Regions from separate parts of the Homo sapiens genome. Here region 1 is linked to region 2. The links come from fine-mapping of genetic effects on plasma protein levels. A gene starts in region 2. The other region holds a variant in brackets. All regions are shown on one strand. Distances are from middle to middle. Region 1 overlaps LDLRAD3 (low density lipoprotein receptor class A domain containing 3). Region 2 holds the start of FJX1 (four-jointed box kinase 1).

Region 1 (16,443 bases), 550 kb after region 2:
GGCAGGAGAATGGTGTGAACCCAGGAGGCAGAGGTTGCCGTGAGCCAAGATTGAGCCACTGCACTCCAGCCTGGGCAACAGAGCAAGACTCTGTTTCAAAAAAATAAATAAATAAAAAATTAAAAAGGAAAGAAAGAAAGAAAGATCCCTTGTTGAAGCTGAATGCCCATGCCCAAATTCTGGCCTTCTCTCTACCTCCTGCTTTTGCAGTAGCTTTCTAATGAGCCTTCCTGACCTCCAGTCCTTGTCACTGAAAGCCCAGTCCTGCTTGTCTTGCTGTCTGTGTTCAAACACACAATAGCCCCTCATTGCCAGTAGCATAAAGCTGAATCTCTTACTGGACATGGAAAGTTCTCCGAGGTCTGATCTGTTCACCACATGCACCCATAGGCACCTCTGAACAATCCTTGGTTTCCCACCTTTCAGGCACACTTTTCTGTCTGTCTAGAACGCCCTCACCAGTCTAGCCAGGCCAGAGGTTTCCAGTTGTTCAAATTGTAATTCACATGGTGCTGTTTCAGTGAATCATGCTCATATCTGGGAATGACCTGAATTCTATCCCAGCTCTGATGTACCCACATGGTAACATTAGAGACAGTCATAATAGCAGCTACTGTGTATTGAGCACTTACTACACAATACACAGTATTGTGTAGTAAGATGGGCCAGGGGTGCACATCGCAAAACTTCAGGGGGTGCCATTTACATCGAATACAGAAGAGAGGCACTGCTGGCCACTGTGCCAAGACCTTCATATAGATAATCTCAGCCCTAACAGTTGGACTCTGTTACCGCCATTTTACGAAGAAGGAAACTAAGGCTACAAATGTTAAGTTTCTTGCCCAGGGCCACATAGCTAGTAAACAATTGGGCTGGGCTGTAGTCAACTCAGGTCTCTTTCCAAAGCCCATGGTCTTTCCATGGCACTCCGCTCCCTCCTTAATAGATGCTAAGTTCCGTGAGGGCGGGATCCCACTTTGAATTGTTTTTAGTCTTCCACCTCCTCCATTGAGCTTGATAAATGTATATTGGTCAAAATCCCCAGTCCTGTCTAGTGCCAGTTACACATCAGTGTCTGTAGTAGAGACCCTGGCGCTAGCATGAATTCTACCAAGCAGGCTAGACTTTACAATCAATCAATAGAATAAAAGGAAGGAAAATAAACAGTTCCTCCCAGCCCACTGAGTACTATTGTCTTGTCTCTTAGTACCACTACAAGGAAATGCTAGATCATGAGCTGGGGCTACCAGAGAGCTTCATAGACTTGACCCCAACACTTTAGCTGGATGACTTGGAGAAAATTACCCCAAAGTGTCTGCAGTGACTTCTGTGACCACCACCAGCTTCCCAAACCAGCCCATCCAACTCCCTTTTCCTGAGTGAGGTAAAAACTGGTAGAACCAAGGAATGCTGAATTTCCAAACGCCTCCTAAGGGAACTGAAACCGCAAATTGGCCACTTGGCTGAGAAATGCTCTCTTTCCCTCCAACACACACTTTCCTTTTCCTTTAGCTAAAGAATCCATAGATGAGTCTCACTTTGTGATACACGTGCTCCTGAAAGCTGTGTGGAATTGAGTCATTTTCTAAATTCACCAGGGAATCTTTCCATTTTAAAGAAAATCTCTAGTCAGTTATAAAACCAGATGCTATCAGAGACAGAAAGACCATTAGAGGTTTATCTAATTCAGCTTTCGTCTCATTTTACAGATGAGAAAACCAGAGAGGTTAAGTGACTTGGCCACAGTCACACAGCTCGTTAGCGATAGGAATTGACCTTAAGTCAAACAGAGCCTTAGGTCCTCTGATGCTGGTGCCAGTGCTTTCCCCTTTCCAAACCTCTTTCATAATGAAATCACCCAGCCCCTACCCGTGTCCCTATTCACTCCCACCAAAAAAATCCTCCATATAGTCTGTTTTACAAATTCATCCATTCTTCTTTCAGGGAGGGTTTCATCTATACTTCTGGCTTTGTCTGCTTCCAACTCCCTTTGGCCATTTGCACAGATCAGCTTTTCTAACAGAAAGGTGTGCAGAAAAAAGTTGAAATAGCAGGTCTGTTTTAGGATAAATAGTTGGGACGCTTGACAGCTTGCACCTGGTTTCCCCCAGACTTTACTCCATGCACCTTTTTCCATGCTATTTTTGCTCTGTAACCTTTTGCTCTAATACATTGTGCCTGTGAGTACAAGTATATGCTGAGTCCTGTGAGTCCTCTTAGCAAATCTTCACAATTGGGGTGCTCTTGGGGACCTCCAACAAAGAGGGAGAGGAAGCTTTCAGTCAAGGGTACAATCAAGCAGTCTCCTTTCTTAATTGAGGCAGGGATGATTAAGGTTTGTGGATGAATACTCTGAGGTCCTGCTCACCTGGGTTCCACTCCTGAATCTGCCATTTACCATGGATTTGTGGCAAGTTATTTTCTCACTCTGAGCCTCAGGATCTCCAACAAAGGGGTTAGTAACACTTAATGGCTTCGGGTTCTTGGAGGACGCCGAGAGATGCCCAGCATAGTCGGGGTGCTTGACCAGGATGTGCTCCATGGGCATAGGAACTCTGAGTTGTAGATGTGGTATCCCCACTTCTCAGAACAGGTCCTCCTGCAGCAAATATTTGTTGAATGTATACTTCAGGAGTGAATAAATGCCACCTAACATTGCTGCAGAAAGCACTTGAGCCCAGGAGGGACCGGAGATTATTGTCAAGCAAGATGAGTAAATTCCATATAAGTTTCTGTCTGAGCACTGGCTGGCTCTGGTTGCTGTGGGAGAGAACTTTTAATTGAACACAGTTGGGGGTATCTCTGCTTTCCCAGACCTTTTGCTGGGTCAGTTGGCACCCCTCCCTCTCTTAGGACATTGAGGCTTGTCTCTGGATTACCTTGGTTGATCTATTTCTGGATCTGTCTGTAAATTTGTCATAAAGGTAGACCCTGTTACCAAGTACATGTTCTTAATTAGCAAGACACATTTTGAATGGCTAAGTGGAACATCCCTTTTTGCAATCCCAGTGACCCATTTCCCAAGTGCTCTCTTTTGGCCTTATTTTTTTCTGCTTCTTGAACAAAGGAGAAGGGAGGAATGCAGCTATGTGCATATTTATTTGCTCTAGTGGTGGGCAAATGTTTAAATTCCTGCCATTAGGGGGTTTCTCTAGCTTGCTTTGCTTGTTAATGTTTTTTTTTAACAGGATAAATCATGTGCAAGTGTCATCGATAGACTAACAAGAGGTAGGCGGGCCATGGGAAAGTAGAATTTACCACCTCTCCAACAGTTCAAGGATACTGTTCTTCTAAGTTTTTAAACATTGGTTGGAATTGTGCCTTCAGTGGGGTGTGGGGGAGTTGGAGAGGCACCTTCATCCCAGACTGAAGGCCAGAAGCCTCGGGTTCCAGTTGTGTCTCAACCACTGAGTTGTCCCAGAGACTTTGGCATAAACTGCTTGACTTCCTCGGCCTCTGTTCTTCTTTTTGTAAAGAGATGAGTTCATCCAGAATGTTCTCTCGCATTCTGGCATTCTTAAAGAGTCCCAATTTTGAGCTCAGAGAATGCCACACCGACTGAAAGTAAGTCACACCTTTAAACATCTGGGGGACTTAAATTTGAAGAATGTGCCCATGATACTACCACCACTGATGTACCCAGCCTGCGGGTGAGCCAGGACAGGTAAATGGTGACCCACTGTTAGTGTCCAAGAGATGACTAGACCCCAGGTGGCACAGCCTAGGGGCTCTTGGACCCCACTTATTCCCTTTGTACCCAAGTAGCTTTCCTAAAGCATGTTCCTTAGAACCCTAAATCCACAAGCAGCTCCGCCTGTGGTCACATGAATTTGGGAGGCACTTTCCCAATCTTAGAAATCACAACAGAGGTTTAGAGAAGTCGTAGGGAAAAGAAATTGTTTGTTGTTGTCTAACCTGTGTTTCCTGAACTTAATTGACCAAAAACCCCGTTATTTTCCCCCATTCCATACTGCCTGTAGCCTCCCATGCAAACCCATTTCAGAACCTGCAGCTGCAGTCAGTCTGGAGTCAGGTAACTTAATTAGGAATCTGTTTCATGTCTTATCATTCAGTTCCTATTGGTTAATTTTCTTGGAACTTATGTCAGAGGGACATCCATGTGCATCCTAATGACAGCCTCATTTGAGACAAAATTTTCCATCATGGACAAACCAACCACCAGGTGACCCCAGGCAGTCTCCCCTGGCCTCTACCACAAGTCCCTCTCCCAGGAGCTCATGCTGTCTTTAGGCCCAGTCCATCTGTCTGTCTGCTTCTCTCTCTCCCTTCCTGTCCTCTTTCCTTGGGCAGCTCCTCCTCTTCCCCATTTCCCTGTTTTCCACCCTCTCACCCTTGCCCTTACTTTGAATTCTGCTGGGAAGAGGATGGCCTTTTACCCCAGACCCACAATCTTTCCAGTTCAGGCTGGTTCATTTGCCATCATTTGCTTTCTCATTGATTAGGAATTAATCAATGGCTGACAGTCTCCCCAGAGTGGATCACAGCTGTCTAGGAAATCTGCTGACCTAGAAAGATTTTCAGATGCTGTTAACAACCCACAGATCACGCTGTCAAGTATTTTCTTTCTTCAGCAGCTCTTGGCATGGCGAGCATGTGATTCTGCCCCTCTGCTCTGTGGCCTTTCAGTGACATTCATTATTTATCCGGGTCCTTTGAAGCTCTGCCTCAAAATGTTGCCAGAAATTCCAAATTATTTTCTTCCTTCTTGTTTAAAGAATTTCATCTAAAACTTTGTTTGGAGAGAGCCCGCTGAAGTCATAGTTATATTGACTTCCGCGTCTGTTCCCCAGCTCATCTTTGCTCCCTGTTTTCTCCCCACGCTGGCCTCCGTGCCTGGAACAAGTCAGACTTGTGTTATTTCCCAGCTGTGTGACCTTGAGCAAGTGGCTTAATGTTTCTGAGCCTTAGTTTCTTCCTCTGTAAAATAAGGATAATAATACGTACTTCACAGACTAGTGGTAAGGATTAAATGAGACAATGAGAGAATGCAAAGCACTTAGCCTAGTTCAAGAACATAGTTATCCATCACTTTAGGATACAGCAGGGGCCTCTTGTTCACCCCTGTTATTCCCAGGGGTACCCGCCTGGCTCATAGTAGGTGCGTAGCAAGATTTTTTTCAATGGAAACTAGAGTGGGATGCGCCTATCTAGAAAATCCTCTGTTGGAGCCTAGTCTTGGTCCTTAAAAGTCCTGGGCCTGCCTTCCCCCTGCCTTTAAGAAGCTGAGCCAGCAATAGTAGCATGTGGCCACCTGCAGGGCTCTGTGGAGGAAAGAGCTTTGAGCTGGGAAATTATGTTCTTAGATGAGTCATGTTCTGCCTCACCATTTCTTTAGTGGTTCTCAATCCTAGTTGCACATTAGAATCACCCAGGGAGCAGTTTTTAGAGACTCCATACAAGAGATTGACTCTGCTGATTCGAGGTAGAGCCTTGCGATGTGTCAGAAGTCCTTTGCTTTCGTTGAGAAGAACGTACTGAGTGGAAATTGTATAACCTCATCAACAGCTAAGCACCTGAAGGGATAAAAAAGACCGCCAGTAGTTGGCAGTCTTGGTTGAGGCTTCAAGATTGAATCCAAAGCAGCTTGTGATTCCTTTGGAGTGGCACGATCCCCAACTGAAGAGCTGTTTGCACATACACATTGTCACTGCAAACTCAAAGCCCAAGTTTGTTCGTATAGCCAGCTCTGCCCAGCAGGACCCTGGGTAGGGCCAGGTGCCTTGGCAGAACATGGATGGGGCAGTACAGGGCCACTTGGATCAGGTCCACCCATTTGCCATTGTTAGCATGAGCTGAAAGAAGTTGGGTCTCCCAAGGCAGTGCTGTCTCACTGCAGTAAACAGCAGTTTTCAGAAGATCTACGTCCTTGAAATATACACAGATTGGGTTTTGTTTGTTTACCCACACACAGCCTTCTCTTAGAGGGGAGTTAAGGTAAGGAAATGACTGTCTCAACACTCACACCCTGATGTGGCATTATTTGGCAACAATAACTTCTTCATCATCCCCTCCCCTCCTCATGGCACCCACCCAGCTGGCAGAAAATGACAAAGAAGGAAGATCAGCATTCATCATCTTCAGCATGATATGGTTTCAGAGATTTTTAGCATTTGATTTGTAACATTTCAGAAGGCAACATAAATCAAGCTGGTAATTTGTTTTGTCATGCCAAAAAAAAAGGAAAATCTGAATTCATTTGGGAGAACGTGTGTATGTCAGTCACTGCCTTTTCGGATCTGGTTGAAAAGCTGCAAATATTTTTCTCCACACAAAGTACATTCAGGTTTTGTTGATGATGTTGTTAGTACAGATCTCCTCTGGGGCACTGAGTAACCCTGGGGAGAGGATGGGAAACAGCGTAAGGGCTGTAATTTTCAGCCTGGAATAGAAGCAGCAATTTTAGGCAATTTAAACAATTCTATTAAGGGCAATCTTTTGGTCTCCTGCTGGAAAGAGAGGACCCCATTCAGAATGCTCCCAGTAATGCTGTAAGGGGCTGATGGGGTCTCCAGATTGTATACAGTTTCCTGCACCCCCGAAACCATCATAGAGGATCTCTGCCCCCTCATGCCTTTAAACGGGAACATTAATAATTTCCTGCTTAGTGCAGGATGTAGTCCAAAAACTCAAAATGAGTTGTCCAGATAAAGGGAGACCTCTGGGGGATGCCAGA[C/A]AAACTTGGTCTTGTCAGAAGAGAAAAACTTGAGAGGGAGTTAATTGAAGAGTTTCCCACATTGCAGCTTGTGAGTGGTTCTGTTGCACTTTTGTTGATTTTTAAAATTTCTTTTTATTTAGTCAGTTTTTAAAGTCCCAAATGAACCATGGGGTTCTTGGCCCAGAGAACAGATGAACATTGGTTAGGCCAGGGAGTTATTTTCCAGCAAACTGCCCATGAGTTAAACTCCACTCTGTGGATTGGGGGTCATGATAAGGGAAGGGAGCCCCTACTATTTTGCGGGTCTCTGTTTTGAGTGTCTTAAAATTCTAGTGGAGTAGGAGCCATTGGGACCATCACAGGAAGATATAGCCCCTGGGTGGGAAGCAGGGTGTCTGTCTTTTGGAGGGAGCGGAGTGTCTCCATTTCAGTTGTTGCTGAGACAGGCAAGGTCTGGTGGTTGAGGAAACATCTTTTTCTCTCTGAGCCTCTTTTTGAGCTTAGATTATAAGGAATCTAGATCTGTCACGGGTAGATGCTTCCAGGTTCTGGGAGCAGAAGGCACTGCTACAAGGAGGCAAGTTGGGGACTCAGTAGAAGGTAACCTGTTGGTTAGTAGCTGTTAAGCAATTTGGACCCCAACCTACAATAAGAACTACTTTTATATCACAAATATACAGATAGGAAGTCATTCTACATTCAGCACACTGACGCAGGTATTTTTTAATACATTCTATTCCCTTCTTTTCGTTTTATGCTGGCCCTGACCCACTATGTTAGTTTCTGTACTTATTATACTATTTGGTTGAGACCTGATGTTGAAAAAACATTCCAGTGGGATAGTCTATGAAGATAGCCTCAGCACATGAGTTATGAGAGCTGCCTCAGCTGTGAGAGTTCCAGGCACGTCACTGTCCGGGGGTAATTCCCTTTGAGTTTCATTGAATTTTAAGGAAAAAGCCCCCTTGCTCTTCCTCAAATGCACCAAAGACTCTCTCACCCCAGGATCTTTGCACTTGCTGTTCTGTTCACTTAGAACACCTGTCTTCCATATACCCAAGGGTCCACCTTCAGCTCTTTATCAGGTGCCACCCTCTCAAGGAGAACCCCATCCCCATCCCCACCCCCTGTTTAAAATTGCAACCCATCACCAACCCCGCTCCCTCTTCGTTCCACTTACCATGTTCTGGGCTTTTTTTTTTTTTTTTTTGCCACAGCATTTATTATCTTCTCCCAAACAATATACCCTATAACTTTTTATTATATCTACTCTCTGTCTCTGCCCACTACCATGTAAATTCTGTGAGGGCAGGAATTTCTGTTCTGTATATCATCATATCCCATCAGCTGGAGCAGTGCCTGTGGTGTGACAGATGCTCACTGAAGACTTTGTGGAATGAATAAATGAATGAATTAATGCTGTTAAAATGATAGCCTCTTCTTACTACAACTGTCTTTTATTTTTTTTAATTGATACGTAATAATTGTACATATTTACAGGGTACAATGTGTTGTAATCCATGTATACGTTGTGTAATGATCAAATCAGGGTAATTGGCACATCCATCACCTTATATGTGTGTCATTTCTTTTGGTGACTACATTCAGAAAGGTCTAGCTATTTTGAAATATACAATACATTATTATTAACTATAGCTGCCCTACTGTGCAAGAGAACACCAGTTTTTCTAATTGTAATTTTGTACGTGTTGGCTGCTTTCTTAAATTGTGGAAATTAAAGGAAGGGCTGAACTGTTACTCAGATTTGAATAGAAATGAGGAAGAAGAAGAACAGTGAGATAAGGAGATAGTGACAGTGATACATGTTGACAATTCCATTGAAAAAGAACTTGGCCGGGTGTGGTCGTTCATGGCTGTAATCCCAGCACTTAGGACACGAAGGCCGAAGCATCGCTTGAGCCCAGGAATTTGAGACCAGCCTGGGCAACATAGTGAGACCCCCATCTATATAAAAATTTTAAAAAACTTGCTGGGTATGGTGGTGTTTGCCTGTAGTCCCAGCTACTGGAGAAGCCGAGGTGGGAGGATCACCTGAGCTCGGGAGGTTGATTCTGCGGTGAGCCGTGAGCACGCCACTGGACTCCAGCCTGAGCAACAGAGTCAGACCCTGTCTCTAAAAAGAAAAAGGAGCCAGATGCGGTGGCTCACTGCTGTAATCCCAGGGGAAGCCAAGGCAGAAGGATCACTTGAGGCCAGGAGTTCAAGACCAGCCTGGTCAACATAGTAAAACACCGTCTTTACAGAAACTAAAAAAAAAAAAAAAAAAAAAAAAGCCAGATGTGGTGACATGCTCCTGTAGTCCCAGCTACATGGGAAGCTGAGGTGGGAGGATTGCTTGAGCTTGGGAGGTTGAGGCTGCAGTAAGCCCAGATCATGCCACTGCACTCCAGCCTGGCAACAGAGCGAGGCCCTCAAAAAAAAAGGAGAACTCAGGGGACAAGAATCAAGGTGGCAAAGGCCTATGACCTTTGCCCACAGAATAACCACCCCTACCCTGGAGGGCCAGGACGGTTCCTTCCTCTCCTTCCATCCCAAGCCTGAGTCTTATGTTCCCTGCCCAGTAGTGAGTCCTCCGGCAACTCATCAGCAACACAGAGCCGCAGGGCTTTTGTTGGGACCCCCTTGAAAACACTCAGTCCCACGTTGCTGCACATTGCTAGTGGTTGATAAGACCGTTGCAGGAAAATTTATAAATCCGTGGCCTTACTGGCTGTGAGCGAGGCAGATAAGCCACAGTCTGACAGAAAGAAAAGCATCTCCCTTCCCTGTTCTTGCCTGAGATGCAAAGAATAAACCTGAATCTGTGTGGTGAATGAACGTCCTGGTGAAGTGAACGTGATAAAATTCCAGCTTGCTGTTTTGTGGGACGTATTGCAGGCACCGCATCTTTGTTCTCAGTCCCCTCTGCCCTTTGTGTGGGCCAGCCTCGAGGGACGTGGCCCAGTGAATCCTGGGGGAAAATCACGCTCACAGAAAGCCAGCGTGATTTCCCAGCCAGAGGAGATAAGGCCCGTGGGAGTGAATGGCAGCTTAGCGACCCCTGTTGCACCAAATCCTCCTTGAAATATTTAATTATAAGATACATGAATGCTTATCCCAGCAGTTATTTTTTCCTCTTAACCCATATTTAGCCTTGCAGCAAAAAATAAAATATGGTTCCTGGGAGTTTATCTTTCTTTTAATGAGGCTCTCAGGGGTCAGTTTTTTCCCTTAAAAAATTTTTGGCCCATCGTTCAACCCAGGAACTCTGCTTGTCAGAGAGGATCTTTGAATAAAATAATGCTGTCTGGTTCTTTTCATAGGTATCGTTTACCCTTTCATATTGGTTTTCAGTTTTAAAAAGTATTTTCACATAGAAGAAATCGGGACTGAAAATGCGTTAGTGACCAGCTCAAAGTCACACAATGACTTAGTGAGAACTCGAAATGGAAACAGGATCTTTTTTTTGGCGTGGGGAGGGACAGAGTTTCGCTCTTGTTGCCCAGGCTGGAGTGCAATGGCGCAATCTGGGCTCACTGCAACCTCCGCCTCCCAGGTTCAAGTGATTCTCCTGCCTCACCCTCCCGAGTAGTTGGGATTACAGGCACCTGCAACCACACCCAGCTAATTTCTGTATTTTCAGTAGAAATAGGGTTTCACCATGTTGGCCAGGCTGGTCTTGAACGCCTGACCTCAGGTGATCTGCCCACCTCAGCCTCCCAAAGTGCTGGGATTACAGGCGTGAGCCACCGCGCCTGGCCAGAAGCAGGATCTTGAAGCTCTCAGAATGCCCGTCTCTCCTTCTGTGCACAGTGAGGGCTTCCCATTCTTTCTGATTTCCCTTTCCTGTAGCAGAGAGGGGAAGATACTCCACATTAGTCAAGAGCTTTAGGGTACCAGGCACTGTGTGTAAAGTACATTTCTTATATTACCCCTTTGATTCCTCCCAGGAATCCTATGGCATCTATAATACTATCCCCATTTTCTAAATGAGGAAATGGAACTTCAGAGTGATTTTGTTCCAAGTAGAAATCAGGCTCTGGCAACTGCTTCCTGCTAGCAGGGTGAGATACAAACTTTTACAAATAGCAGACAGGCCATCATATAAATATATGATGTATTTATAAATACATACCTGTAGATATATTTCTAAATACATATCTGTAGATGTGTTTATAAATGTGGGGGAAACAGATAAAAATCCCTACCCTTGTGGAGTCTACATTCTGTTGATTCATTTTGGGATGGATGGATGGATGGATGGATGGATGGAGTACAACAATCTTCAGAGGCCAACTCCACTTCAGTCCCGGCAAATTCCTCTTACAGAAGAGCGGTAAGATACATTGGTAGACATATACAACCTGGGCTTCAGACCAGGGAAGTTTTATTTTGCCACTAAATTTAGCCACTGTATCAACACATCTCCCAGCTTACAAGATGACTGAGAACAAGTGTAAGTTCTTGAGGACACAAGCCCTTGCCTTAGTCAGCTTTGTGTGCCCTGCTGTACTTAATGCTTCATGGGTGTTCATTAAATGTTTAAATGAATGAGATGCATAATTCAGTTACGATGAGGCTCTCTGAGAATGAGTTAACATCTATCGAGAGTTGTGCAGTCCGCAGACTTAGAAATATCCAAAAATAATCACCCCTAGAGAGATCTCTGCAAATCAGTAATGAAAGAACTGAAGTAAAACTATAAATCATTCCGTTAACGGTTTTATACATTTACAAGTAAGTAATTTTGGAAGCAAAATTGGTGTATAAGCTGTATTTAGCCTCGATGTGCTAAGCAACTTTGAACCAAATATAAATTCCTGGCGTGGTATTTTTAAGCCACGGTGGGGGCAGGGTGCTGGGGAAAAAGTTGAGTTGGAGGAGCATCAAAGCTATTTTTGTAAGTTTCATCTACATTTTTAGAAAGATGCATTTTTGAAGAATTGGGATATCAGTCACTTCTCCCTGGCAGGATTCCTCATCAAGGGAGAAATGACAGCATGTCCGATCTTCCTTGAGTCTCTAAAGATCGCATTATTAAGATGGTTTCTGTCACTGTGCACCATGTCTGAGAACATGTCTTGGCACACCACCCTGTCCTTCGTCTCCTGATTTATAGCTTGCAATAGACTTGTTGAGTGTGAAGCTAGAACCCAGACAGAATGTTAATGCAGGGAAATGACATGTGAATCAGTGGTGCCCTGGGCTTTGAGTGCACATGACTGAGGGGAGGCCCAGTCAGCTGTGGCTGTGCTCCTCACATTAGCTTTGATTTGCTAGACATTGCATGAAGAATGAAGCAGAGCCTTAGCCGTGAGCTTCTCAGACTGGAGCTAAGCCGTGGTCCCTAAGTCTATAGCTTCCCACTGGAGACTGACTTAATTAGCCAGGATCCTGAGCTTGGCTAATGGTGGGCCCAGTGAATGCTTGATTTGCAATGGAAATGCCCAATTTGGTATGGAGTCTCCATTTTTAAAATGCATTGGCTAACTTTGCAGCTTCCCCCATCCCCTTCTCATGACAGTCTCCCTTTCTGGAATATTTCAAATGCAAAGGGGGAAACAGGGTTGTCGTTATATCTGGATCCTATCCACAAGGGCTCAGCAGCTGTGATGTTCAGCAGGCCAAATACAGACCCAAGAGACCAAACAGCTTCTTCCTTCCCCAAGCAGTTAAAACAAAGATCTGCTCACTGCCTTGCCTGTGTGTCTTCATGGGTGTTTGATATCAGGGTAAACTCTAGGGGCTAAAAGTGGGAGCAGAAAAAGCAATGCAAACGCATTAGGCGAGAAGCCAGGGCGGATCAGCAAAAGGTCTGGAATTATGGAAGGCTGAAGATAAGCAGTTTTGGTTGATTTCCAACACAGGCAGTTGCCTGCTTTAATGTCTGGATAAGAACTTGCCTGTAATTGGTAGATGGATTGCTTGGCTATAAATGGAGCCTGAAAAGAGTCTATTCCCTTCCAGCAATTAAACATCCCCCTGACTGCTGCCACTTTCTCCACTCTGATTATTCAGCAGACCCATTCTTCTTAATACACAGCACCGAGGTGTGGCTTAGCCCAGCCTGGTTTGAATTAGCTTATGGGATCCACATTAATGAAGCCTAGCCTTACTTCCCTGCATATGATGTGTGACTGGGTATAGTCAAGTGCCCAGTGTAGGTAAATAGATTTCGGAGAATGGTGATGTAAGATACCTACCAACCATATGTGGAAATCCTTTTCAGGATGGTTTCCCTCTGCAAGACTGTAAAGGTAGGAAATGCACTGCCTTTCCCACCCCTTCACTCCTGCACCCATTTGATAACCCACTTGAGTGTTTAGAACAGTCTTCCAAAGAGGGATGTGTGCAAGGTGATTGTTTAGGGAAGGAAGGGAGGGAGGGAGGGAGGGAAAAGGGAGAGAGAAAGGGAAAAGGGGAGGGGAAGAAGGGCAGGAAGAAAGAAAAGCTTTAGATTTGATATATAGATTGACGGGATCATGTATATAATGGAAATATACATATATTGGGGGAATAGTGTCTCAAATGGTGGAAGTTCACTGGTTTAGAGCACTGAATGAGCCACCTCAATTTTGCTCCCGTTTTCATCTTTGTCCCTAGTGCTGAGTGGCTTCAGTTTTCACTGCTTTGATCTATGTCCTGCCTGACTGGATTAAGAAAATAGAGACCTAGAGCTTCCAGTGGGAAGAGAGGAAATCGGTGACAGAACTGAATTAAGACATCTTTCTAGAAGGAGCCATTTTCCAGCCTCTTACCACTGCCCTGGGTGATCCTCTAGGTCACACAGGAGCTGATATCATGGTTGAGCCCTGGGAATCTCAGCCACGCTCTGTCCCTGTGCATCTCATACAAGCTTCCATGGTGATGAAAATTGTTAAGATGTCTTATGTGAAGCACATGGGCGTTGGGTTTGCTCATCACAAGCTGCCTGCTGCTGATGCTGTTTCACCTATTTAAAATACCCAAGTGTTGCTTTATTTAAAATTGAACAAGAGTCAGCCACTTAGAACATTTATCAATAAACTCATCACTCAAATGGAATTGTGCCCCTGCCCCTGCACTTGCATATGGTCTTAGATTGCTGCTCATTTCCAGGCACAGATGGCTTGCTTCAAAATTTTTTGCTTGAACAGGGTAAAAAAGCGAGAGTTGGTAGCTTTTAAGTGTACAAACTTGCCAAGAAAGGAAAATGCTGTGAGTGGGGATGATTGCTGGCAAGCAGCAGGGTCCGATATAATCCATGTCTGTCCATCCGTGTGTCTGTTCTTCAGCCCTGTGTGGCAGATCCCCTTCCAGTGAGTGAGCTTTAGCAAATGGAGTGTCTATGACAGCTATTTGAATCATCCTAGAATCTACTGGCTTAAAGCTGACAGCTCTGACTCTTCCTTTAACTTCTTAAGTGCAGTGTTTTGGACAGAGATAGAAGCTTTGCGAGCAGGCAGCCCGCCAGATTCTTCTATGTCCCAGATCTGGATGTTAGATTAGAAAATTTGATATTTACAAATGTGCTTCACCTTGAATTAGCCATGACCCAGTTGCTATTGTTTGTTGAAAGAGATATCTTTTAGAATTTTACTTATACAACTGACTTGCTTTTCAAAAGCACAATAAAATCTTATGTTCCCATTATAAAAGTACATATACTCATTACAGGATGTTTGGAAAATATAGAACAGGGAAAATTTTACCCACATTTCCTGCTTCCATAAATAATCACTATTAGCAGTTGGCGTATTTCCTCCCATATCCTTTTCCATGCCTAGGCAATGGAGGCTTTTTGTTCTTGCAACCGTGATACTTTTTATTCAGTTTTACATCCTACTTTTTTTCCCACTTATATTAATAAATATTTTCCCATGTTGTTATAAACTCTTAGTAAGCATTCTTAATGGTTGTATGATATTCTATTAAATGGGTGCATCTTATTTTACTTAGCCACACATCTATTGATGAACATTTAGATTTTGTCAATACATTGTTGTAGACGAAGTTGTGATGGCTTTAAACCTTTTTTTTTTTGCTTTCGTCTTTTGAATTACTTCCTTAGGATAGATTACCGTAAGATTTATATGAGGTATGAACACCTTTAGGGCCCATTACACTTATATTACTAACTTGTTATCCAAATGGATATCTGTTTACACCCCCACAAGCAATTTGATAGAACCTTTTTTTCATCACGTAATTGCCAACATAGGATATTATCATTTTAAAAAATCATTCTTGCACTGCTAGGCAAGAAATGGTATCTAATTGCAGCTCCCTTCTAAGTGTTGATTGAGCCTTTATTTAGGAAGGTCCTGCTGTGTTTTGCATAGTTCATTGGAAATTCTAGGAAAGTGCTCTTGAAAAAGGAAATTATTTATTTTCATTCTACTTTTTCAAACTTCTCACCTCCCCCTCCCACCCCCCAGTTTTAAGTCATCTTACATGAAGAAATATAAGACCAAATTACAGAAGCAGGGAATTAATGATCCAAAGATTCTAGTTAACAAGATGATCACCCAGGTTTCAAAAAATAAGTGATCTCATTTTTATGGCTTAAATATTTTAGTAACCGTTGAGTGCCTACTGTTTATATTTCTTTTCTAGGCTGACTGGCTTGCTTCCTCCCTCCCTCCCTCCCTCCCTCCCTCCCTCCCTTCCTTCCTTCCTTCCTTCCTTCCTCTATTCCATCCTCTCCTCTCCTCCCTCCTCTCCCATCCTAGACAGCTTAGGTGAAGGGCTGACAGAGGGAAATTGACTGGCTAATCTATGTGCAGTAGCCCCTGGTTCCTGCTCTTTCCGCTGAACATGATTTATAGTTGTTTGGCAGAAGGTCAAAATCTGATTCCATAGAGTGGGAATGCAGGGGGAAATATTTGATTTCTTTGACACAGTTCATTAAAAATTCATACATATGGATCTGGAAATGAAACATTGCTCCATGTCAACATGAGTTACAGTGGGAGCCTAGAGCAAGACATGAGTATTCAAGTGAGACACTGTCACCAGGTAATCACATCGGCATGGCAGTGCCTCTCAGTGAGACATGGAAGGGGGAAAGGTGACCTGGACTCTGGAGGGTGGAAATGAAATTTTTCTCTTTTGCCTAAAGGCTTTCCTTGTAAATAGAAGCCAGTTTGTTAGAAAACCTCTGTTACAAAGAGCCCATTTCATTCATGTATTCTTTTGTCCATTTGTTTGACAAATATTTATTTATTTTCCACTATTGGTAAGGTGTATATTGATTAATAAGAGAGATGACTTATTTCAAATTTCCCTGTTATTTCTACTTTGTTTCTTAATTCTTCCTCTTTGACCCTTTACTTTAGAGCTATCTGACTTTTACAATGTCTAGACTTCAAGCCTTTTATTATAAATACTGTAAATGGTTGGAAACATGATCTTCTAGCCCAGTACTTCTCAAATTGTAATGTACACACAAATCATCTGGGGATCTGTTAAAATGAAGATTCTGATTCAGTAGGTCCAGGATGGGGCCAGAGAGAATGCATGTCTGTCAAATTCCCAGGAGATGCCGCTGCTGCTGATCCAAGCACCATTTGAATAGCGAGGCTCTAGTCTACCATATCTGTACTGGGTTGAATAATGTTCTCCATAAATTCATAACCACCCAGCACCTGTGTATGTGACCTTATTTGGATATAGTTTTTGCAGATGTAATCAAGTTAAGATGGTTTTATGGTCAACATTCTTCAGGAAAATGGAATTAATAGAATAGGATGTAGATAGAATGATATTAATTTATTTTAAGGAATTGG
Region 2 (16,033 bases):
TTTGAATGGGTGAGAACGGACCTGAGCTTTTTCAAGGAACTTCTAGGGGCAAAAAATATTTCTCTATCTCCTTCTAGATAATGTGTAAGTAAAGGCTGGAACTGCTGCATCCATTTTGCCACCATGAGGAAGCCAGGCTGCTGCTGTATGAAAAGCATAACAGGAAGCTTGAAAGAAACTAGCGCTGGATGACATTGGTGAGCCCTTAAATCAACCCAACCCAGAAGACCTTCTAGGTACTTGTACCTTAAATCTATCTCCTATATTGTTTAACCAATCTGGAAGTGAGATTCTTATAGTTTAAAAAAAAAAAAAAAAACAAGACTTAAGTGACCCAATGAGGCATCCAGAAATGGCCCAGACCTTAGAAAGGCCTTAATTCCCTAAGGCTGGGATAAGAACACCCCAGGTCAAGGGAATAATATGAGAAATACTGCCCTAACCGAGGACCTAATTAGACTTCTAAAGGAGTTCAGCCTGAACCTAAAAGAAAGGATGCTTAAGGCCAGGCGCGGTGGCTCACGCCTGTAATCCCAGCACTTTGGGAGGCCAAGACGGGCGGATCACGAGGTCAGGAGATCGAGACCGTCCTGGCTAACACGGCGAAACCCCGTCTCTACTTAAAAAATACAAAAAAAAATAGCCGGGCGTGGTCGCGGGCGCCTATAGTCCCAGCTACTGGGAAGGCTGAGGTAGGAGAATCGCGTGAACTCGGGAGGCGGAGCCTGCAGTGAGCCGAGATGGCGCCACTGCACTCCAGCCTCGGCGACAGAGTGAGACTCCGTCTTAAAAAAAAAAAAGAAAGGACGCTTAAATGAAGGAACTCATTCATTTGTCCATCCATCCACCACCGACCCACCCATTCACTGATAATTAGAATTCTAGCTCCTTTAGATCCCTCCATAGGTCGGCACCAGTATCTAGGCTCCATCCTCATGCAAACAGTGCCACTTTGCAAGCCTTAAACAAATGCAGGTGATACCCCTGGCCCCTGGTTTTTAATGGCACTCAACTCCCCTCCCTTCCTTTCCATCTCCACTGCTGCCACCCAAGCCCACACCCTTGCTACCTTAATTCCAGCTCCATTGGGGCAACTTCTTAACAGTCACCTATCTATCTGCCTTTTGACCATCTGATGCCATAAAGCATGAATTATTCATTTAAGAGCATTCCCTTGATCATTTCAGTCTGCTCAAAAATATATGCTGAGTATAATGAATTTAGATAGATGTCCAGGAATATAAGAAATTTTTTGAAAAAGAAAAAGAAGAAAGTCCTTTCTCTTCAAATTTCCTTTTCCCAAGGTAAGGTATGTCAACAGTTAGATATGTATCCTCTCAGACTTTTTTCAAGGAATAAATATATTTTTTACTTTTCTTTTTCAACAAAGCACACTATAGCTTTATAAAAGTTACTATAGTACAAGAGAGGGACTGCCCTGAGATCACATAAAAAACCATCCCTACATGATTCCTTAGGGCCACATTCACTCAAAATAATGGAAGTTTAAACTCAACTGCCCTTCTGGGGGAGCACTCTGAACACAATTGGAATACAACTCTAATTTTGTTGCTGTGATATTTCTGTTGTTACATTCTCCACTGACTTAATTAGTGCATGCTATTGTCTGACACAATGTCACTTTTACTCCAGTTATAGCCAGAGGCAGTTAGCACAAAATTCACAATATTTTAAATTCCAATAAAACTATCCCGCCTAATGGTCCTGTTTCAGCAACTTTAGAGGGTAGAACACCAGCATCTGAAGCTGCAAATGCGAAAAAAAAGCTTTCCATGGTGTCTCAGAAAGAGTACTCCTCAGAGGGTCCATGGCTGGGCATGAACTCCTGAGAGTTCCTGGTGCTTTGTTCTCCCAAACCATACACAAAAGAGCTGACTCAAAGGCTTGGCTTAAAATGATGTTAATACCATGCTGGTTCTGGGAGCAAATATTATATCATAATTTCCAATCTGTTGTAGTCAAGACTATGACTACTCAACAGTTCTGTGACCTGTCCCAGAGCAGCCAGGGATGGGTACCAAAGCTGCCAGTCTTGGGTCCTTTCAAGCTAGCTTTCCAATACAGATGGGTGGTCAGGACCGGGTGACCTGAAGACACACTGGCCCAGGTTTGAATCTGGCCTTAGCATTTAAGAGTCCTATCATCTTAAGCAATTTACAAGTCTCTGAAGCTTGGTTTGCTCATCTGTAAATGGGGCTTATAAAACCCACCTGAAAGGGTTTGTGAGGCTATGTGAGCTGCCTGGCATGTAGCAAGACTCGGTAACTGGTATCCGTTATTAGTCTATCCCTGGTTGTTAGAGATGTGACTTCTGCCTTCCAATAAGTAATTTCTGATCTCTTCCCCAGCAACTGCCCAACTCCACTTCCAAAGAAAAAAAAAACAAATCACAAGGAATGGGTGGGCGGCAGAGGGCAGGATTTATTGCCACTAGAAAGGACTCTTACAGGCTGACCGGAGGGGAGCTAGCTGAGCAAGTCCTCTGTGGCGCAGATGTTGCCAGGAAGCATTACAGAGAACACAGAACATTCCTCCTCCCCCCCTAAACTGGCTAAGCTCTCTGCTTCTCACTTTATCCTCAACCTCTTGGGCCTTGGCTGGGTGCCTCTTTGCTGGGAAACACGGATGGTCCACATAGAAAATGCAGTCTGGATTTGAGCTCGCCTTAGAAAAGCCCTAAATCAGTCTGCCCCAGGGCAATGACATGTTTGTCTCTCTCTCTGTCTTTCACACACACACGCACATGCACACACATATGCACACGTACAGATTATACTTTGTGTGCCTTCTGTATGCTTCATATTCTCTGCCTCCCAAATGACAGCTGTAAAATGACAGCTAGTGATAGAAAAATCAAAAGATCCTCTATTACTTTTCTTTACCCTAATAAAGGTCTCAAATTCCCTTTCTAACCGGAGGGGCAGCACTAAAACAAATTTATGGAAATTCTGGATCTGGTAACCATTGGAGTCAAGAAGACAAGTGTTGTTATTGTTGTGTGGGTGTGTTTGCCATCATAATCAACATTTATTCAGACCCAGGGCAGACGTGTCACTGCGATGTATCACCAAGCACATGAATGATGAATCCTGCTGGTTCCTTGTAAAAGGATGCATAAAACACATTTTGTCGAGATCTTACAGTATAGCTCTACTTGCTTTATCCATTGTTAGAGGTTTCACGTTATTATTTTCAAAGAAATGCAAGATTATAACTTTTTAAAAAAATCAAACAACACAAAATTGTTGGGATGGACATGTGCAGAATCACAGTCCAGCACAGAACTGTTCCCTTACATACTAAAGTCTGGATGAGCCGATGCTGGAAACCTGGTCCTAAAATAGACTAATCAGATTCCTCCTTCCTGGAATATTAAAGCTTGAATGGAAGGTGCCTGTAGCTGAGACATCTTATACCCACAACCCTTGATCAAAGGCGCTCCTGTTTACATACCCAGGGCCGCCAATTCTGGTGTTTGCTGGTGCCATTGATGCTTCTATTGATGCTGTTACTAGTAGTGAGTATAAATTTTGCAATCAACCTGGGCACAGTGGCTCATGCCTGTAATCCCAGGAGTGAGAGGCCAAGGTGGGAAGATCGCTTGAGCCCAGGAGTTCAAGACCAGCCTGGGCAACAAATTGAGACCACGTCTCTACAAAAAAATTAAAAACTTAGCTGGGCATGGTGGCATGTGCCTGTACTCCCAGCTACTTGAGAGGCTGAGGCTGGAGGATCCCTTGAGCCCAGGAGTTCGAGGCTGCAGTGAGCTATGATTGCTCCACTGCACTCCAGCCTGGGTGACAGAGCGAGACCCTGTCTCAAAAGAAAGCCACAAAAAACAGATTTCACAATCACACAGACAGATGTACAAAAATGTCACATTAGTACTCTCTATCTGATCATAACTCTTAACGTGAGCATCCACACATCCATTAATACTTACATATCATTCCCACAATGAGTTATAAAGTAAAAACGTATGCAGTATAAAAGTGAAAGTGCCCCCCACACACAAACATCTTCTTGGGAGTAATGCCATTAACAGGTTAGTGTGTGTCCTCCAAGACATTCTGTGCAGCTTCATGTGTGATTTTTAATATTTATTGAGTGCCTACTATATGCCAGAAACTGCATTATAACTTTTCACTTGCTCTAATCCCATAATCTCATTGAATTCTTGTAATACTTCCGCAAGGCAAGCATTAATATCCTATTTTTACAAATGAGAAAACCAAGGTGGGAAGACTTCTATAGTCCAGCTACTCTCACTTATCCTAAAAAGCCATGCAGACCTGTTGTCACCCCTAACTAAATGGCCCTCCCAATGGGGAGAGATGAAGACAAAGTTTAACATCATGCTTTGATCTGCTGACTTGATTTTGCCCTGAGTGAGAGGGGGTATCATGCACAGGAGCAGAAAAACAGGAGGAAGCTTTTTGCTTGTTACCATTTCCTGTTAACTATCTCAGAGTTGTTGTATAATCTTTTTCCCCCAAAAAAATTTCACTCAGCAAATAAGTCAATAATCAGTGATTACCTGCACTTTCTTTCTCTGACTTCTTTGGTTAGCTCTTCTGCTTATTGAAACAGGTAAGCAGAGAAAAGTATTTAAAAATAATCTCTCTCTCTTTTCCCTAACTTTTCTTGCTCATTTTCCTTCCCCACTTCCTTTCTTTCATAAGTGCTAGTAACAGAGATAGAAGAGTCCAACGCAGGCAGGTCACTTGAGGCCAGGAGTTCAAGACCAGCCTGACCAACACGGTGAAACCCTGTTTCTACCAAAAAAAAAAATACAAACATTAGCAGGGTGTGGTGGCACATGCTTGTAGTCCCAGCTACTTGGGAAGCTGAGGCATGACAATCACTTAAACCAGGGAAATGGAGGTTGCAGTGAGCCGAGATCACACCACTGCACTCCAGCCTGGGTGATGGAGCAAGACTCTGTCTCAAAAAAGAGAGAGAAAGCACCATGGAATGGGAAAGGAGTGTCTAAATATTCTAGCTTTTTAGCAATCCTTGGTTTCTTTTTTCTGTCCTCATTATTGGAGTTTTAGCAGCCATTGTAACATACAGGTAACATGCACCTGTAACTATGTGGAAAACATGAGATAGAGATAGAATCTGCAGATGTGAGTCACACTGGGCAAAGACGGAGTGTCCTGTAAAACCTCTGAGGTGAAACTCAGGTAAAGTGCATTCATGTTCTTGGTGTGTCAGGAACTAGCTGAGAACCTAGGGCTCATCACGCAACTCTCTGAAGCTCAGCTTTCTTCTTCATCAGTAGGAACAGTAACTAACCCCTGCCTTACTACCCCTCCCTAGCAGGTTGTTTTGAAAACCCAATGAGATCAGCCTGTGAAACTGCTCGGCCAAACTGCAAGGAGCTAGATAATAACCATTGTTATTCCTCAGCTTTTGTCCTGCTATTCCTCAGGCCGAGATTGTAAAATGTAGCCATTTTTTAAACTCAAGCAGCAAGAAGTGGCCTTTAAAGTTTCTTTCTTCTTTTATTCTTCAGGTGAAATGAAAGGGAAGGAGACATTCAGCATCAAGTCTCAATGTGTGGTGTGAAACAAACACACCCAGCCCCACAGAGGCATCTTCCCTGGGGCAATCTCAGAGTTTGCTCATGGGAGGGGCAAAACCAGAGGAGAAATGACAGCAGGTGTTCTTGCATTGCCATTCTTGTCCAGGCTGATCTGCTCCCCAGACAGAGACAGTGCCATTTCCAGGATTGCCAGGCCAACCCTCCTCTTTCTGGATCAATCACATCCCACTCAATAAGGTATTAATCCTGTGGAGCTTTCTGTACTGCAACGTACCTCCCAGTAAATGGGCTTGGGCTTAATCATTCAGCAGAGATGAGGATGCAGGTAGTACCTATATCAAACAGCCTTGAGAAAGACGACGTGCAGGTACTAAGGAGAGAGGCAATTCCCCTGTAAGAGTCCCCTTTGCTAATTCACCAGTGTTTCTCAGCCCCAGGAAGCCAAGTGGCATTGTAGTTAACATAACCTTGGTCTTTTGGCAGACAAGAGTTGGGGTTCCTCTTTTACCCAATAGCAGAAGTCTTCTGGTCTGAGGCTTACTCTAATGATGCTCCTTTTTCCCATGAATGAAATGGGAAAATAAGATCTTGCGGTGTTGTGGGAGGATCTTAAAGATTAAGTGCTTGGAAAACTCTCAGCACACTGCCTGACGTGTAGAAAGTATGCTGAAAATGTTAAATTGTGTCTACCAGAAATCCCTTCAGGGACCCCCCAATTTGATCCCTAGAAAAACCTTGACCTGAACTAGAAGCTGAGATCCTGAATGGATCCTGAATGGGAGTAGCCCTGTTTTACATGATGTAAGAGGAAAGTTTCACCTGTTTCCCCACACGGGCGGGAGAGAGAAAGGAAAGAGAAGACAGCTGCATGGATGAAGACCTTGCGCAGTGCAGTGACCTCTCCTCAGCGAGCCCCACCAGATCTTCAGGAAAGTCAATGAACTCATGATATCTTGGTCCAAATGCAGGCGGGGGGGTGGTTAAGGCAGTGAACTTCACACCCATGCTGATGTGTGTTGGAGCCAAAGTCACAACTGTGAAAGCAGGAAGTGGACACAGACAGAAGTTTGAGGCACAAAGCTCCAGGGACTCTCAGGAACAGGGGAAAGTCTTTGAACCTCCCTGCCACCGAGACCATACAATAGGAATACAAATAGGAATTTAGGCTAAGTCCAATTGGATCTCAAAAAAGCAGGTGGCTTCAACTGACAACAGGGTACATCATTATTATCATCATGATCATCACCATCACTGCCATCACCAACATCATCAAATGATGTTGTCTGCCTATGGAATGCAAAAAGCTGATTTTCGGCAACCAAAGCTAGGGCCCTGGAAGCTAACACATTCTTAACCAGGGCTGCATTACCTAAGAACTTCTGTTTTTTCACTCACCTGATTGTGGAAATATCAAACTACCTCTACGCTCACTATTCCCCATCAGTGAGTGTCTGTAAGTTATCCCTTGCCTTTTCCTACTCTTGCCAGCCATTTTTCAGTCCAGCAGCAATGGCTTTTCCTGGGTCTGGAAGTCTCCTGGTCTCCCACTTAGGTGACTCACTATTCCGAAGCCACTTTTCTGCACTGCAGTAAGCCCCCAGTTACAAATTACTTACCTGCTGGCCATCATTTTAATGTAAATGGATTTTAAAAAGCAGCAAAGGAATATATTTTCATTTGGAGTTAAAGCATCCATTTTTTATTTGAGTGTGAGCCTGGTCTAGGAGAGATGGCAGAAGAATGGCTCCAAGGCTAATATGGTTAATGATTATGATGGAGATCCCATGAGCAGCCGATATTTCACTTGCAACCATCTCGATCCGGGCTTTGCTGGCTGCAGTACTTTCTTTTTTTCACAGCTACTTCCATTAACACCCACCGCCTATGATAGAACCATTATGATAATATCTCTGCTTTCGGCAGCCTCAATTGGTCTTGACACATTATCACCCTAAGAGCTTAGCCACGTCGCACTAAGTCCTATTTATAATAACCCTTGGCAGGAGCTACCAAAATAAAACCTGGTACTTATGAACTACCTTTCATCTGAGGAAATCAGAAAGCTTTACAAGCTTAATTAAGCTTCAGCATCTATCTGACTGATGAGATATGTGGGGCCTTGGAAAGCTGAGGAGGCACAGAATCACTAATTGTGCACTGGATAAATCTCTGGGTGGCAACGAAGAATAGAAATCAACAAAGAAGAACGAGAGTCACCTCTTTTAGTGGGAGTGTTTGTTGAGTGAATTTTTTCAGGGTGGGTTGAGACCAACAATCATAGGTTATTGATGAAGGGGCCATGGAGGGTCTCTAATGAGGTGGCTCTCAATCTAGGGCGGGGGCCTGAGATTTACTTCTTTTGCCAAAAGAGGATTAAGCTAATTCAACACACTCAAGGGCTTTCAAGGACAAAGAAATTGAGCTCCTGAAAGATGTGGTAATCTGCCTGTGGGCACACAGCTGTTGAGCTCACACACTGTTCCCTCTACTTGGCTGAATCTCCCACCCCACCTGTAAATCTCCACTTCCCCTTCAAGACTCATCTTAACACCTGCCTCCTCGGTGAAGCCTTCCTGGACTTCCCTGGCAGAATCAGTCACTCCCTATTCTATGCTCCTGCGTGTGCTTTCTATTTCCATAATATCTACAGCAATTGATATTTATTGAGTCCTTTCTAAGTGCTTAAGGTACATTTTATCCATACAATAATGAGGCAGGTACAGTTACCATCTCCATTCTACAGATGAGTTAAGTGGTCCGGAGAGGCTAAGTGATTTTCCCAAGATGGTACAGCTCATAGGTGCAAGACTCAGCCTGGCTGCAGAGCACATGTTCCAAAACATTAAACCACACTACTTTCCCAGTAGCCCAGTTGTGATGGAAGAGATCTGTTTGTTTATAAGTCAGCCTCCTTCCTTAGTTTGTAAGCTCTGATGTGAAAGGGTATGTCATTCAGGAGAATTTGGGCTGCAAACAACAGAAACCCCAACTCAGAGTAGCTTAAACCACAGGAAATCTAGAGGAAGGGCATTTCCAGAGTTGATTAACTTGGGGGCTTGGTGACATCAGCAAGGATCCAGGTTCCTTCCATCTCTCTACTCTGCCTTCCTGATTGTGTGAACGTAGTTCCCCTTGCATTAACATGACTTCCTCAGTTCCAGGCCTCCCATCCAGCCTGAACCATGCAGAAAAGGTGCCATATCTTTCTTGTGTCTCTGTAAGAGTACAGACAACTTTTCCAGAAACCTTCCACTGGGCTTCCCCCGTAACATTCACTAGCCAGAATGGTCTCACATGCCTAAGCCTTAACCAGTCACTGCAAGGAATTGAAAGCACCATGACTGGTTCAGCCCAAACAGGATTCAGCATCCCTTAAAGGTTAAAGGCACAGAGGATGAAGGTAGAGACCTGCCAAAAAGGAGGAAGGGAAGGCGGAGGATGAAAAGAAGACAACAAACGTTCCCTGATGCAGGTGTGAAGGAAGATCTGATGCCCAATCACTTATTCCTCAGTCCTTTGGCCTTTACCATGTGGGCAACAAATGTCTGTGGAACTAAATTATAGTAGAGAAATTCATGTCTCCAAATGCCCAGTCCAGAATTCTTACCATCATACTCTGTAACCAGGACTGAAATATGTGTTGGCGACTGCTCTAAAATTTACTAAATTGATTCACCGGTGCTCCAACCTTTAGATTCGAGTCTTTAACACTAGTGTCTGCAGGAACCTTTGCAAAGCAGGTCCAAAAGAGAGCTAGGTGGAATAAAGAGAATCGTAAAAATGTGTCTCATCACAATTTACAAGGTTCTTGTCAACCATGACTTTCTTTCCAGAAACACAATGTGTTCTTAAAAGTGGGACTTGTTCAAGCAGATAGGTTCATTGCATTCAAAGACTACTCTATTTCCTGACCTCCTTCTAGCTCTCCAGTAGGATTTATCTGGAACCAGGCATCAATATACCCACCCTTGACAGCCAAGAATGTGAGAATGAGATCAGTTAAGCAATTTTTGGAAGACCCAGATCATAGTCAAATAGAGATACCAAGAAAAGGAAACTGATCCTCAAGCAGAAACATAATGTACCCTAGGGTAGAAAAGACGGGAAGGAGGGAATGGCTTAGTTCAGGCTTACTATAACAGAGCGCCATTGGCTGGGGTAGTTTAAACAACAAACATTTGAGCGGGCGCAGGGGATCACACCTGTAATCCCAGCACTCTGAGAGGCCAAGGCGGGGGGATCATTTGAGGCCAGGAGTTTGAGACCTGCCTGGCCAACATGGAGAAACCCCATCTCTACCAAAAATAAAACTAAAAATAAAAAAAATTAGCCGGACGTAATTGTGGTGGCACACACCTGTAATCCCAGCTACTCGAGAGGCTGAGGCAAGAAAATTGGCTGAGGCAAGAAAATCAGTGTAGGTTGCAGTGAGCCGAGATTGTGCCACTGTACTCCAGCCTGGGTGATAGAGCAAGACTCTGCCTCAAAAAAAAATATATAGATAGATACATAGATAGATAGATGATAGATAGATAGATAGATAGATAGATAGATAGATAGATAGAGATATCTATCTATCTATCTACATATAGAGAGAGAGAGACAGAGAGAGAGAGGTTGGGAGGTCCAGGATCAAGGTGCCAGAAGACTGGGTGTCTAGTGGGGCTACTCTTCCTTGCTCATAGGCAGCGGTATTCTTTCTGGGTCCTCACATGATGAAAACAGAGCTGGAGAGCTTACTGGGGTCTCTTTTATAAGGACACTAATCTCATTTATGAGGGCTCTACCCTCATGATTTGATCACCTCCCAAAGGCCCTACCTCCTAATGCCACCATATTGGGAGTTATGATCTCAACATATTAATTTATGGTGCAAGGAGGAACACAAACATTCAGTCCGTAACAGAGATACATACATAATAAAATTATAGCCCAGGGGGTTAGAAAACTCCCCAGGGTCAAAGAGTAGTGGCCAATGTAGGAGTCATACCACTTCCATGGAATATTATACTCATCTCTGACATCTTTTGTCCCCTCTCTTCCTTTTTGTAGAAGCACGTGGAAGGGTACATTTGGACGCCTCTGTCTTTTCCAGGGGCTTATAACTCAGGAGATCCAGAAAAGGTCAGGATTGAAGGAGGCAGACTAGTGAGAGGAAGCCAGAAGCTGTCTGCCCGAGGCTGGCTGGAGGCTCTGGGCATTTAACAAGAGTTACACTGGGAACCTTGGTAGAAGCCAGGTGGTCCAGCTCCATGGGGAAGAAATATTGCAAAATTATCAGGAAAGACACCATTTCAGGCATAAAGCAGGTGCATTGAGCTGGAACACCACTTGTATTAGGTCTCTCAAGACCAAGTGAGACTTGGTGGAGGACAGCAACAAGAGAAGGAAGACATCCCCATCTGAGCACTGAAACAGTGAAATAGAAAGGAAATAGAAAGGAAAAAGAACAACAACAGCTATACTATAGTGAACACTTAGATGCTCTTTTAAGCACTTTAAATATAAGCACTAATTTAATCATCACAATAATCTATAAGATTTGTTCCTATTACTAGTAATCATGAGATATTGTATATTGTTATAATTTTTGTTAGTAATACTAGTAATACTGTTCTTATTGCATTTTACAGATATATACACTGAGGCACAAAGGGGTTAAGTAACTTACCCGAAGTCACATGCCTGGTAAGTGGCAGGACTGGGTTTTAATGAGACAATCTGGCTTGACAGTTCACACTCTTAACCATTTCACTTGGGAACAAACCCCAGAGAACACATGAAACCAAAATTTCATCTCAGTTGAATCTATTTTGATTTAATGTAATAATTTCTGCACCTGACATTTCCCTAGCAGTTTATAATTTACAAAAGGTTTGGTCCCCATCATTTTGGAATCGCAGCCCTGCCACTTCCTTGCTGCATGACCTCATTCCACTGATTGGCTAAGCTTCCACTTCCCCATCTGTAAAGTGGGTATAATAATACTTTTGGGGGGGTTTCATGAGATAAAGCACATGCAGGGTTTAGCTCCACACCGAGCCCATAATAAGAGTTCAATAAGTGTTTGCTGCCACTGATGCTGTGGTTATTATTAATATTTCACTTGAGCTGCATGACAACCCTGTGAGTTAGGAAGGATTTATTAACTTATTTCTCAGGTTCTGAAACTGAAACTCACAGAAAGTAAATAACTAGAACAAGGAACAAGCCAGAAAGTGCTAATGCCAGACTTGGAAAATATTCCAATTCCAAGCCTCCTCCCCTGCTTCCAACCCTCAACTCCACCTCCTCTCTTTCCCCCAGGAGGCACCATTACATGAACCAGATCATTCTTCAAACAGGACTGTGGAAAAGTTTGAAGATATTGGAAGTTCAGGCTCAGGGATAAATTCTAAGGAGTATTAAGAAAGTCATAAAAGTGCAAATGGATTTCTCATCCCCAAGCAACTGCCAGAGGGCAGAAGTGACTGAGGTGATTAACTATGCTACCCCACAGAGCCAAAGTGGTTTGGCCACAGGTGGCAGGGGAGTGTCCTCAGTCCAGAAAATAAAGGAGAATGGGAGTATTTTCATCTAACAGCTAAACAGAGGCATGTTTTTAAACCCTGTCTCAAATAATCAAATACCATTCCAAAACTGCATTCCACTTTGAGGAAGGGGCAGTGTTTGTTCCTTTGGTTTTCTGTATTTCTGCATTTCAATTAATTTGTTAAAGTTTAACAAATTAATGCATCCTGTTCTGGTACATGATGCATTCAGTCCTATGGCTATAGGCAAAGGGCTGCTCAATGATAAAATTAGTCCATCTTATGAGGTGTACGATCTTAGTCAATTTATTTAAGTCTGGGTTTTTTTCATCAGTACCAGCAATATGGTTAGGAGATTCCAGGATTTCTAGTCTCTGGATTTGAAGCCAGCCCTCCCAGAATTAAAATCATGTGCTTCCCCTCACATCTATCATGCAAAACCCTCACCAATATTTTTTCTTTTTCAAATGAGTGGAAGTTCTTATTTTGTATTCTTTAATCAGCTGAACAATAACTCACAACCGTTGGACAAAATTGTTTTGCATTATTTAGTAGTAAGGTATTTAATTTAAAAAAACTTGATACATGCTACTTGCATCTCATTAGCATTCTAACGATGTATTCAGCAAATTGTTGTTGAACACACACTAAGTGCCAGGCATTGTGCCCAGGCAGCCATAAAACAATGGACAAGACAGACTCCCCAGGAAGTTTACAATGGTAGTTACTTACAGCTTTTGTTAGCAGCCAAAAAGACAGAGACCCCAACTACTTTGGATTTCTCCATATCCCCTAGGACATAGCTTGGTACACAGTAGACATTTAATAGTCTTCCGAATTTAACTTCAACAATTAATCATCCAGTTAAAAATGTCTACTTTTCTCCAATTAGATGATACTCTACTTATGCCCACTAGGTGGCGATCTTGCTTATAGTTTGCCCACGCTGAAAGAGGCTGCCTTTCAAATAAATACATATATATCCCAGTAGAAGTTAAACCAAAAGACAAAAAAATTAAATTTATTGAGTGCTTATTTAGTGTAATATACTATGTTAGGTGGTATAAGAAATAAAAAAATAAGACATAGTCCCTGCCTGCTAGGGAAAGATGAGGAGGGGCTTACATAGGCCAAAAAAATAAGACCTTTGAATGGATTAATATATTTCGATGCAACCATATGGGAGCCATAGTAATCTCATTATCAGATAAGAGTTATAAAATGGCATGGTATAGCCACCATGTGGTTGGGAACAGATTCAACAGTTCATCCAGTATGTACTTAACCACACCAGTGAAAACACTTGACTGTATCCTGGGTCAGTGCTGCAATACTCCAAATGTGGTTTTTTGATGCCTCTGCTCAGCCATAAACATAAGAGTGTCTGCTTTATCACCCTGGAACGCTCTATCACCCTAGAACGTTTTTTCTTTGGAGAATAAAACATAATCAGTGCCAACTGATGAGGTAGTCCAGTTGAAAACCCCCATGTGCACCTGATGGGAAGATGAAAGGAGAGAAAAGATACACACCATGTAAGGAAACAGATTTCAAACTCTGGCCTTTGAGAGGTGGATTCCACCATGCCCCTGATCTTGTGTCTACCCTGGGAATCTCAGTGTGGATCTGGGACTCATTCTGATACAGAGAGGTAAGGGAGGGCCGACTGGCATCCAAGTTTTCCTGGTAAATGTAACCCAGAGGTGGCTGGAAGATGTGTTGGGGTGAAGAGGTTGTTCATTTTGTTTTCTTTGCTCCTTCACCACCTCCCTCCCCCACCACCACCACCATTTCTTTTTCCCTTAAATCGTAAAAGCAGTAAATCAAATGCAGTATGGGATTGAGGTTTTTTTCCTTTCCATTTGAAAAATCCTTTTAATTGAAAAATCACATTTGGGGAACAAAGTGGTCAAATGACAGTGAATTTCAAACTTGAGAATGCTGACTTGATTAAAAAAAAAATACTGATCTTTCTTAATGGAGGGAAAATCAAGTGCATGCGGCCAGGAGACCTGAGTTTGACTTTTAGCTTCGCCCCTTGCTAATTGTGCAATCCTGAGCAACACCCATCCCTTCTCTGTGCCTCAGTTTCCTCATGGACAAAACGGTATCATTTCTTTCGAAAAGTCGTCCCTGACTCCCCTCTCCCCAACACGAGGTTGGATGGCTATAATCTCTCTTAGCAACCTGAGAGTCCCACTGGAATGTAAATTTCAGCAGCACTGGGACCCGGATCTGTGGATTTTGCTTCTGGTAAGCAGAACCAGAACTGAGGGGCAGTCGCTGTGTTGAATGGATGCATGAATGAATGGGAGATGGCCTAGGTGTTCAAGGGGCACGTGCACAGCGAGGCTTCATTCCCTGGGAGTCCGTTGGGAAAGGCAGAGCGGCCAATACTGATTGGTGCTGATGTGCGAGCTCGGAAAAGGGAGTGTCGGTTCAAAGTTGTTGGCTACAGCGGGTTCCTCTTTCCGCTGGAATCACATCCTCTGTGGCTCGGAGACATTCCCAGAGATTTACATAAAGCAGCGTGAATCACCCAGACAGAAACTGAGAAAGCAAAGGGACCCTGCCTGATCCTAGCCTGGCGGAGCTCGGAAAGAGGTGGAAATCTGTCTGAAGTTTGCAGGAGACCCGCGCTGCCTAGGCAAAGGGACCCGGCGACCAAGACACCCCCGCGAGGGCCCAGGGCGCGTCCCTCCCGCCAGGCCCCAGACTCCGGCTCTGCGCCACCCCCTCCTACGCCCCGGCGCGGGCGCAGCCAGTCCGGCTTCCTCCAGGCCCCCAAGTCCCGGACCGAGTGTGGGGCCGCCTCTCCCTCTCGGAAGGAGCCATCGCCGCTTTAAGTGGAAGAGGAGAGGAAGGGGGCGGGGGAGCGGGGGGCGGGGAGCGGAGGCGGAGGAGGGGGAGGGGGATCCCCCTGGCTCCCACGTGGTCCGGGCGCCTGTGAATCGCGCCCACCGGAGGGTCTCACAGCGAAATACAAAAGCAGCTGGGAAGCGGCGGGGACTCGAGTTCCCAGCGCCGGGCGGAGCGCCGGACAGAGCCCCGCAGCGCCCCGCGGCCGCGATGGGGCCGAAGCGCCCGAAGCCCCGGAGCCCACAAACTGCCGGGCCCGCCTCGCCGCCGGGACCCGGGTGCCTGGGCTCGGCTTGAAGCGGCGGCGGCGCACCGGCACAGCCGCGGGAGCATGGGCAGGAGGATGCGGGGCGCCGCCGCCACCGCGGGGCTCTGGCTGCTGGCGCTGGGCTCGCTGCTGGCGCTGTGGGGAGGGCTCCTGCCGCCGCGGACCGAGCTGCCCGCCTCCCGGCCGCCCGAAGACCGACTCCCACGGCGCCCGGCCCGGAGCGGCGGCCCCGCGCCCGCGCCTCGCTTCCCTCTGCCCCCGCCCCTGGCGTGGGACGCCCGCGGCGGCTCCCTGAAAACTTTCCGGGCGCTGCTCACCCTGGCGGCCGGCGCGGACGGCCCGCCCCGGCAGTCCCGGAGCGAGCCCAGGTGGCACGTGTCAGCCAGGCAGCCCCGGCCGGAGGAGAGCGCCGCGGTGCACGGGGGCGTCTTCTGGAGCCGCGGCCTGGAGGAGCAGGTGCCCCCGGGCTTTTCGGAGGCCCAGGCGGCGGCGTGGCTGGAGGCGGCTCGCGGCGCCCGGATGGTGGCCCTGGAGCGCGGGGGTTGCGGGCGCAGCTCCAACCGACTGGCCCGTTTTGCCGACGGCACCCGCGCCTGCGTGCGCTACGGCATCAACCCGGAGCAGATTCAGGGCGAGGCCCTGTCTTACTATCTGGCGCGCCTGCTGGGCCTCCAGCGCCACGTGCCGCCGCTGGCACTGGCTCGGGTGGAGGCTCGGGGCGCGCAGTGGGCGCAGGTGCAGGAGGAGCTGCGCGCTGCGCACTGGACCGAGGGCAGCGTGGTGAGCCTGACACGCTGGCTGCCCAAC

Evidence for each region. PIP is the chance, under the fine-mapping model, that this variant and not a neighbour inherited with it causes the effect. Sun 2018 read protein levels with aptamers (SomaScan).
Region 1: its variant is fine-mapped to the plasma level of the FJX1 protein (Sun 2018, PIP 0.95).

What each region holds. Positions count from the first base shown.
Region 1 is chr11:36,150,658-36,167,100 of GRCh38, forward strand. The region is part of intron 4 of LDLRAD3 (low density lipoprotein receptor class A domain containing 3); the gene reads left to right. Among named protein-coding and RNA genes, the nearest start is that of COMMD9, 130 kb to the right of the region's middle. RefSeq lists an enhancer at 2,700-2,869. The variant C/A (reference allele first, on the strand shown) is at 6,695.
Region 2 is chr11:35,603,348-35,619,380 of GRCh38, forward strand. FJX1 (four-jointed box kinase 1) reads left to right here and starts at 15,113. Exons shown (of 1, transcript NM_014344.4): 1 at 15,113-16,033. The coding sequence starts at 15,290. RefSeq lists silencers at 14,701-14,790, 14,821-15,150, 14,972-15,133, 15,231-15,300, 15,321-15,580 and 1 more and an enhancer at 15,433-16,033.